Regions from separate parts of the Homo sapiens genome. Here region 2 is linked to region 1. The links come from fine-mapping of genetic effects on gene expression. A gene starts in region 1. The other region holds a variant in brackets. All regions are shown on one strand. Distances are between the middles of the regions.

The links.
Region 2: its variant is fine-mapped to the expression of CNIH3 in whole blood (TOPMed, PIP above 0.99).

The regions. Positions count from the first base shown.
Region 1 is chr1:224,614,077-224,618,461 of GRCh38, reverse strand. CNIH3 (cornichon family AMPA receptor auxiliary protein 3) reads right to left here and starts at 2,145. Exons shown (of 6, transcript NM_152495.2): 1 at 1,207-2,145. The coding sequence starts at 1,287. CNIH3-AS2 (CNIH3 antisense RNA 2) reads left to right here and starts at 2,235. Exons shown (of 4, transcript NR_183287.1): 1 at 2,235-2,264; 2 at 2,726-2,850; 3 at 3,035-3,258.
Region 2 is chr1:224,496,959-224,501,343 of GRCh38, reverse strand. It overlaps a transcript of CNIH3 not described here. Among named protein-coding and RNA genes, the nearest start is that of WDR26, 64 kb to the right of the region's middle. RefSeq lists enhancers at 101-601, 602-1,102, 2,478-3,009, 3,085-3,284, 3,010-3,539. The variant A/G (reference allele first, on the strand shown) is at 1,985.

The DNA.
Region 1 (4,385 bases):
CACCCACCCTGCAATTTTCTCCACGTCTTCATTTTGGGTCATCCCCACTGTATGAGAGTCTGTGATGCTCACCAGAACCATGCCTCCAAGAATTCGTCTCAGGGTCCTTCTCTGTCACCTAGACGCTGGGCAGGGCAAGGCTGTTAAAGGTGGGAAATTATGCACTGGGGTGCTCCTTCTAAACATTTGGCCTTGGCCATTCTTCCCACCAGCCCTCTGAGGGTGAGGATAGGGGGCTTAAACAACCTCAGAGAAGGAAGCCTTGAGAGTTGCATGCACTCGCTAAATGTTGCACAGTCTTTGAGAGGACCGGCGTACGCACTCCTGCGCGCTCTCTCAGTACTTCTCTTCCCCTATTCAGAAGCTTGCGCTCCTCTATTCCCACCCACACCTAAAGAACTGGGATCCACGGCTGCCCTCCACCTGGCGTAGCCCCGGGAAGGGTGACAGGAAGCTTGTGTGGGCTGGGGACGCTGGGGGCCTAGCGGAGGTTCGCCACCTGCAGGGGGTCTTCAGGAGTCGGACTTCAGACGCCAAGAGGGCAGATGGAGGACACCGTCGTCGCTCTCCACGGTCTCTCTTCGTGACTTTCCTCCATGGCCTTAATGATGCCTGCCCTTCCCAGTCTCCCTCGCCTCCTTGCTCTTCTCCTTCTCGCCTTTCCCCCACCGCCTTCCACTTCGACCCCCATCGCCTGGTCTCCTTCCTCTCCGTGGGCTCGGCTTCTCCCTACCTCTTACAAGGCGCTCCCGTCGTGTTTCCACTTTGTCTCCAATTATATCTAAATGCAACCCACCACAGATGCTGACATTTTAAATGTTTAGTTATTATAGCTACTTGACTAATTGCCGGGACCGACGGCGGCGCTTCTCCTTCGCCTCCCGCCGGCAGGAGAGGACGGGGCGGGAGAGGAAGGGGTTAGTTGTGGTTGTAGCCGCCACTCCCCGGCGCCCGGGACCCGGGACGCCCAGTCGGGCCCTGCAGAGGGTGTCCTACCTGGGCACCAGCGGCCCCTCGCCTCCAGCCAGGGCACCGAAGGCGCGCCCGGCGGGATGCAGCGAACTGCCTCCTGCCCCGGGACAGTGGAGCGGCAGAAGGTCCAACCTTCCGGTTCGCCCACGCCCGCAAGGTGGAAAAAGTGGGGTGAAATCGGGGAAATTTAGCGAAATTGGGGCGAAAGAAGAGAGACCAAAGCGTGTTACTCACGTGCCAGATGGCGAAGAAGATGAGCGCAGCGCACAGCACCAGAGACAGCATGTAGCAGAACGCAGCGAAAGTGAAGGCCATGGCCGGCGGACCCCAATCCCACCACACACGCCAAGAAGCCCCTAGGAGCCCGATGCCTCCCTAGAGGACCGCACTCCCTCCAAGGAGCCGCGTCTGCACGCTCCTCTCCAGGCTAGTGCCCAGGAGGGCGCACAGCTAGCGAAGCGACTCGAGGGTCAGCGAATAAGCGCTGGATTCCCGCAGGCTCCGGCGACCCCAGACCCGGCCCTCCGGCGAAGACAGGAAAACGTGTGTCGAGAGTCGCTGGAGGGAACCGTCCGCAAATCGAAGAAGAAACCAAATCAGCAGCGAACACCTGCAAATTAGTGCCAAGCTGTGAGCCCCTCGAGACCAACACGACAAGCGATGCGACGACTCCACGGAGGACCGAGGGAGGAGGTCCCATTCGCCCCAGGAAGAGCTCTCTGCTTTTCTCCACTAAACCGCTGAGGAGAGACGAGCGCTCCGCTCCGGACCCTCCCGCGCCACCGGGGCGCAAACGGATAGTGTCCAGCGAGGTGCCCGAGCGGCCTCCGAGCTCCTCCCAAATCCCAGAGCCGGGCAGCGCTCTTTCCCGAGAGAAGGAGTCTTTAGGTAGCCGGGAGGAGGTAGGTCCCGTTGGTCCTGCGCCCCAGACGCGGCTTCCAGCGCAGCCGTGCGCTCCGAGGCGCGCCCGTCCCCAACCGTGACTCCGGCCAGCCGGCCTCCGCAACCCAAGTGTCCCGGAAACCGGGGGTCGGACCGGGGCGAGCACTGGCTCCACCCAACGGGCCAACTCCAGCCCGGGTGGCTGCAGCAGTGGGTTTCAGGCCAAACGCTGTAGCTCGCTCCACCTGCTGCTGCCGCTGCCGCCGCCGCCGCCGCCGCCTTTGCCACTGCGAGAACTGTAGCGGTGCGACCCGGGATTCCCTCCTCTCGGCGCCCCACCCTCGACTCCTGTTCCGCTGAGCGCGCCCTCCCCGGCGGGCGGAGACTGCAGCGCCGGGGGCTGAGGAAAGGTGGGTGGCGAAGCGCCGCCGGGCGCTTGGTGGCCGCTGCCGCCGCCACTGCAGCTGTGCACGCCCGCCTCTCGGAGGAAACTTGAAGCCAGCAGTACAAGCAGGGCTGGAGGCCGAGCGGAGGTGGGGCGGGACCGGTTGGAGCAGGGACTCTTTAAACACGTGCGTCTGGAGGAGGTGGGAAGCTGCGGAAGGGTATGGTGTGTGCCTCGCGCCTAAACGCCGCAGCCGCCCCTCCCGGTTCTTGCAGTTTCGCCTATCGGAGTGGGAAGTGTGGGGACTTGGGGCGTTGCCTAGTGTTGGTTGGGGATACAGTGCAAGCCTTGGATCCCAAAGCTGCTTGGATGGATTTTACCAAACTGTAGCATACTCAGTGCTTAGGGCTGCGTTTACTGCTCTGCTCCCAGACCCTGCAAAATTCTCCATTAACGTCCTTCCGTTGCATCCTCTACCCTCCCCAGCCATCCGACCTTGGGACTAGGGAAACGTGGACTTGGTGGGCTATTCTGCGCTGAAGAGGCAGCAACGAGGGCTCGGTGGTATTGGTGTTGGTCCTAGTGGAATTGTCAAGAGGATGCTTTTGAAGGTAGACCGTTTTCTAGCTGCAAGTTACCTAACCTCTTTAATCCTTAGTTTCCTTATCAGAAAAACATAAATAAGAGTAGAGTCAAGCCATTTCAAAGGATTAAAAGGGAACATAAGTAAAAAACCTAGCACTTGGTATACGTTCAATAAGTGGTAGGGATTATTAATTGCACCCTTTCCCCCAGTGGCCCAGCATCTTGGAAGTTCACCATGCTTGCTTTGCAAGAGATTCCTGACGCTGCAGTGAAAGAGGTCCAGTCATTCCAGAGAGAACTTCAGTTTCAGACAAGTCATCAAATCCAGAAAGCAAGGAAAAATACCCTGAAAGACGACTGGCAAATCTCGGTGAAAGAGTAGACGCACTTCATGGATTGGAGTGAATCTTAGAGCACCTGGTACCTTGCACAGGGTGGGAACTAGATAAATAACTATTGCTTGATTCTGACTCTGGTGTGCTAGTTTTCCTGTTCACAGATGTGATTCCAATGCCTTGAGAGCTGGAAGGGATGAATTCCAGCAAGATAGAGATACAGCTTTCTAGTGACAGAACTGGAATCCTGTCTGCGGACTCCTAATCCTGGGCTCTTTCTACTATGCCCCAACATTCCTGCAGCTATTTGGCCACATCTTTTACTTATTTATTTATTTATTTATTTATTTATTTATTTATTTATTTGACGGAGTCTCACTTTGTCGCCAGGCTGGAGTGCAGTGGCGTGATCTCTGCAACCTCCACCTCCCTGGTTCAAGCGATTCTCCTGCCTTAGCCTCCCGAGTAGCTGGGACTACAGGCACGCACCACCACGCCCAGCTAATCTTTGTATTTTTAGTAAAGACGGGGTTTCACCATGTTGGCCAAGATGGTCTCGATCTCTTGACCTCGTGATCTACCCACCTCGGCCTCCCAAAGTGCTGGGATTACAGGCGTGAGCCACCGCTCCAGGCCCTTCAATTTATTTTATTTTATTTTTTTGAAGACAGTCTTGCTGTGTTGCCCAGGCTGGAGTGCAGTGGTGCTATCATAGCTCACTGTAGCCTCAAACTCCTTGCTAGGACTACAGGCATGCACCACCACACCCAGATAATTTTTGTTTTGTTTTGTTTGCAGACATAGGTCTCAATATATGGCCAGGCTGGTCCCAAACTCCTGGCCTCAAGCAGTCTTCCAGCCTTGGCCTCCCAAAGCGCTGGGATTATAGGTGTGCACCACAGTGCCTGGCCTCATATCTCCCTCCAGTTTAGAAACTAGATGCCTTTCAGTGAGAAGTGGAGAAATTAGAGCAAATCCAGAGGCTGATGACCAGAGCAATGAACCGATCTACATTTTATTGCCTCTGGGTCAGGACCGGCTACATACTTTGGAGGGCCAAGTGCAAAATGAAAATGTGGGACTTTGTATTAGGCCGTTCTTGCATTGCTATAAAGAAATACCTGGCCAGGCATGGTGGTTTATGCCTGTAATCCCAGTACTTGGGGAGGTCGAGGTGGGCAGATCACCTGAGCTTAGGTATTTGAGACCAGCCTGGACAACATGGC
Region 2 (4,385 bases), 120 kb after region 1:
AAGAATTCTTTACAAAGTGCCTTTCACCCAGTAAGCTCTCAATAATGATAGTATTATTGCCCATGACCATTTATTCAACACTCTTAAACCCCTACAATGAACAAAGTATGACTCCGCCTACCTCAAGTGTCTTTCTGTTCAATATAGGAGTCAAATATACAAACAAGTGGACATAAAACAAAGCAGAATTAGTAAATGCACATGAGATAGAAACATGATATGCTTTAGAGAGTAGAGAGATGAAAAAAAAGATTACTGTTTCCAGAACAGAAGAGGCACAGCAGCAGAGGTGGCCCACGAGCAAGGCTTTGAAGCATAAGCAGGGCTCTGATCAGTGGAAGCAGATGGTAGGTTCCAGGAAGTGGCAGAAGGGGAGGCATGGAGATGTGATGGTGCAGGGTGTGTGGAATGCACAGATGCCGGCTGCTTCCTCGGGTTCCAGCCCCCCTTCTTCCATCCTAGCAGCCTCATTGTCCACTTAGGCATCCACTGCATTGTGGGGAGTCTTGAGGTCAAGGGAAATCGTGCAGCAGGTAGCCACTCAGCACATCCCAGCCCACTGGCGACTGGGGTTGGTGCAGGGGCAGATGTACGTCAGAAACAAGTCTACTCAGATTAAAGATCAGTCATGAATGCTGGGGAAAAGTCATTCTTTTTTTTTTTTCTTTGCTTTTTTGTCTCACTCTGTCGCCCAGCAGGTTGGAGTGCAGTGGCACAATCTCGCCTCACTGCAACCTCCGCCCCCTGAGTTCAAGCCATCCTCCCTCCTCAGCCTCCCAAGCAGCTGGGACCACAGATGCATGCCACCAAGCCTGACTAAGTTTTTGTATTTTTGGTAGAGATAGAGTTTCGTCATGTTGGCCAGGCTGGTTTCCAACTCCTGAGTTCAAGCTATCTGCCTGCCTCGGCCTCCCAAAGTGCTGGGATTACAGGCATGAACTGTTGCACCAGCCAAGTCATTCTTTCTTTAGAGACATGAGATGAAGGCTGCTGGCAACCATTTTGGGACCATGAGAATTAGGAAGAAATTGTGGCCAGGCACAGTGGCTCAGTTTGTAATCACAGCACTTTGGGAGGCTGAGGTGGGAGGATGACTTGAGACCAGGAGTTCAAGAGACCAGTCTGAGCAACATAAGGAGACACTATCTCTATAAAAAAAAAAAATTGTTTTAATTAGTCAGGCTTGATGGTGCAGGCCTGTAGTCCCAGCTACTAAGGAGGCTGAGGTGGGAGGATCACTTGAGCCCAGGAGGTCAAGGCTACAGTGAGCCATGATTGTGCCACTACACTTCAGCCTAGGAGACACAGTAAGATCCTGTCTCAAAAAGAAAAAAGAAAAAAGAAAGAAAGGAATTAGATCCTTGGGGAATTGTTGAGCCTTACCCAAAGCCCCACTCTGACACTAGATTTCTTTTTCTTTTCTTTTTTCTTTTTTTTTTTTTGGTAGAGATAGGATGTCGCTATGTTGCCCAGGCTGGTCTTGAACTCCTGGCCTCAAGCGATCCTCCTGCCTCAGCCTCCCAAAGTGCTGGGATTACAGGTGTGAGCCACAGTGCCCAGTCAGCTGACTCTAGACTTCTTTTGTCCCAGAAGCAAATAACGGCGTGTATTGTATAAGGCAGTTGAGCTATGCTTTTCAGTTTCTTGATGTTCAAAAAATGACCCGAAATAGAGAGTTATAAAAAATTGAAACTAGAAAGGTATTAGAGGGTTAAATCATGAAAGGCTTTCCTTGCCCCATTCTAAGGCATTAGACTTTATGCAGGCAGTAGGAAATCCCATTGAAAACTGTTGAGGAGGGAGGTGGCACATCAAATCTGTTTTAGGAAATTGATGGCAGGATGAAAGATAGACTGGAAGGGAGAGGGATTAGAAGCAAACCAACAAAAACAACGATTGATTAGTCATGAGTCTCGGCTGGTAAAGGACATTTTATCAAATATCTCCAGATGTCCACATGGCCTGGAGTGGGGAAGAGTAAGAA[A/G]GCAGAGATACCTATGGCAACCTCTCTTCTTATCAGAACCAATGGCCTGCCCTTCACCCTTAAGAGCTTAGTGTATACAGCAGAGAGTCCAAATCCTAATACTGTATTACAATACCTCAGAAGGCTACCCAGTTGTCATAGAAGCTTCAAACAACAGGAAATTTTTAATTTTAAAACAAAGTCCATTTTAATTTAAATTTTTAACTAACATTTTTAAAAGGCGGGGAGTAGGATACAACCCCAAAACAATAAGCTTTAACGGAGTGTCTTCACTACCAAAAGTTTGTGAATCACTGATCTAAATCATGGCACTCCCAGCACCCCTTCCCGGAGCGGGTGCCAGTCCTGGCATGGGTTCCCAGCCCTCTGGGGAGCTACTGGTGTGCTAAAGCTTTGCAGTGCCTGCGGACAGGAAGAGGCTCCAGAGCTCCCAGAGCTCCCATCCTCAGATCCACAAAAAAATGCGAATCTCTCCTAGAGCAATGTAAGTGTCTTGATTCCTCTTCCTGTCGCCTTTCCCCGCTGCCCTTTCTGCTGCACTGTTGCAGCACTGGGCTGATGACGCCAGGGCAGTGAAGGTTCCTTGCCCCCCGCATCTTCCCCTGTGCTGAAGCAGCGCATGGTAACCTGGCTGCCCGTGTTCTGATGCATTCTCCATTCTTTCCCACAGGCACACTCCCACCTGCATTCCAAACTGACTGTTTCATTTACATAATTCCAATAGCTTTCACTGCCAGCTTCCTGTTTTTGTAAACTCATGTAGAATTTTTTAGTTTCATAAGAAACAAGGGCCCCAGCTCACAATCACCCTCTACCAACATAGTTTATCTGCATCAAAGAAGACAGGGAAGCTTCTGTCCATTGGTTTCCCTTCTTATTTTAGAAATAGAAGCTTAAAAAACACCCCAGTGGTTTCCAATCCAGAGAGTTGCATATAAGCTTTTGACTTTACTGGTTACTGGCTTCCTGTTAACTGAAAGAAGTTTCAAGCTGAGTCAGAGAAGAGAACCGGGCCCAGCAGTGATTCATTAGTGTTGCTAATGACACCCCTACCGCCACCACCATCACTGCTGCTTTTGCTGGGGCTGCTGGGGCCTCCATGTTAGCCTAATCCTAAGAGAGCAAGAAACTGAAGCCATTGTCCTGATTTTCTCTTCCAGATGGCATTGCAGTGGCAGCAGTGAGCACAGGCCAAGCAAGACTGGCCTTGAGATGAGGAGGCCAGATGGGCCCTGAATCAGGGTGGTTTCAGGATGCCCAGGAAGGCACTGCTGCTGCAGAATAACTTCCCCCTCTCCCTGCCCTCCCTTTGCACAGTGCCTGAAGATTCTTCCTCCTTCTGAGCTTTTCTGGTCTTCCTGTAAGATACAAATACAGCTTAAAAGGGCTGCTCATACCCTAATATGATTAATGTGATGAGCTCACTTTGGAAAATACTAATCACTTGAGACATGCAGATGGAAGAGATGCTGAATTATAACCCAAAAGACTACCAGGCCAGAAAAGACAGTCAGGAAAGAGATGCAAGTGTCAACTACTTCTCAGTTTTGCCCAGATCCGGGCTTCACTGCAGGGTCATAGTCAGGAGCATCTGACCACCATACAGCCAGCAGTGCAGGAAGTGTTCAGCACTCTTCAGCCATGACTCTAGTTTAGGGATTTCTCTCAGTGCCAAGATCCTCCTGGAGGGCTCCAACAAACAGCAACACATAAAAAAAGTTGCTTTAGAAATGCATCTATAACAACAAAGGGTTCCCAACCCATATTCTTGCAGCTAAGTCTGTCATATGCATTATCTTATCTAATCTTCACAGCAACCTAGGAAACATCACTTCTCCTGATTCTACAGATGAACAGTGAAGATGATGCCACAAGTAAATTTCTGACTTAAAATATCATATTCCATCACAGTATAATTGATTAATTCCTAGACTTTAAAAATCAACATATCATTCACATAACATAAAATCTATCATTTTTTAAAGTAAACATAAAATCTATCATTTGTTAAAGTATACAGTTCAGTGGTTTTTAGTATATTCACTATGTTGTGCAAACATCACCACTAGCTAATTCTAGAACATTTTCATCACCCCAGGAAGAAATCTTGTACCTATTAGCAGTCACTCCCAATTCCTCCCTATGCCTCTCTCCCTGACAACCACTCCTCTACTTTCTGTCTCTATAGATTTGCCTATTTGAACATTTCATATTAATGGAATCATAAAATGTAGTTTTTTTGTGACTGGCTTCTTTCACTGCATGTTTTCAAGAGTCATCCATGTTGTAGCATATAATAGTACTTCATTCCTTTTTATGGCTGCATAATATTCCATTGTATGGATATACCACATTTTGTTTATCCATTCATCCATCAAAGAACACTTGAGTTGCTTCCCCC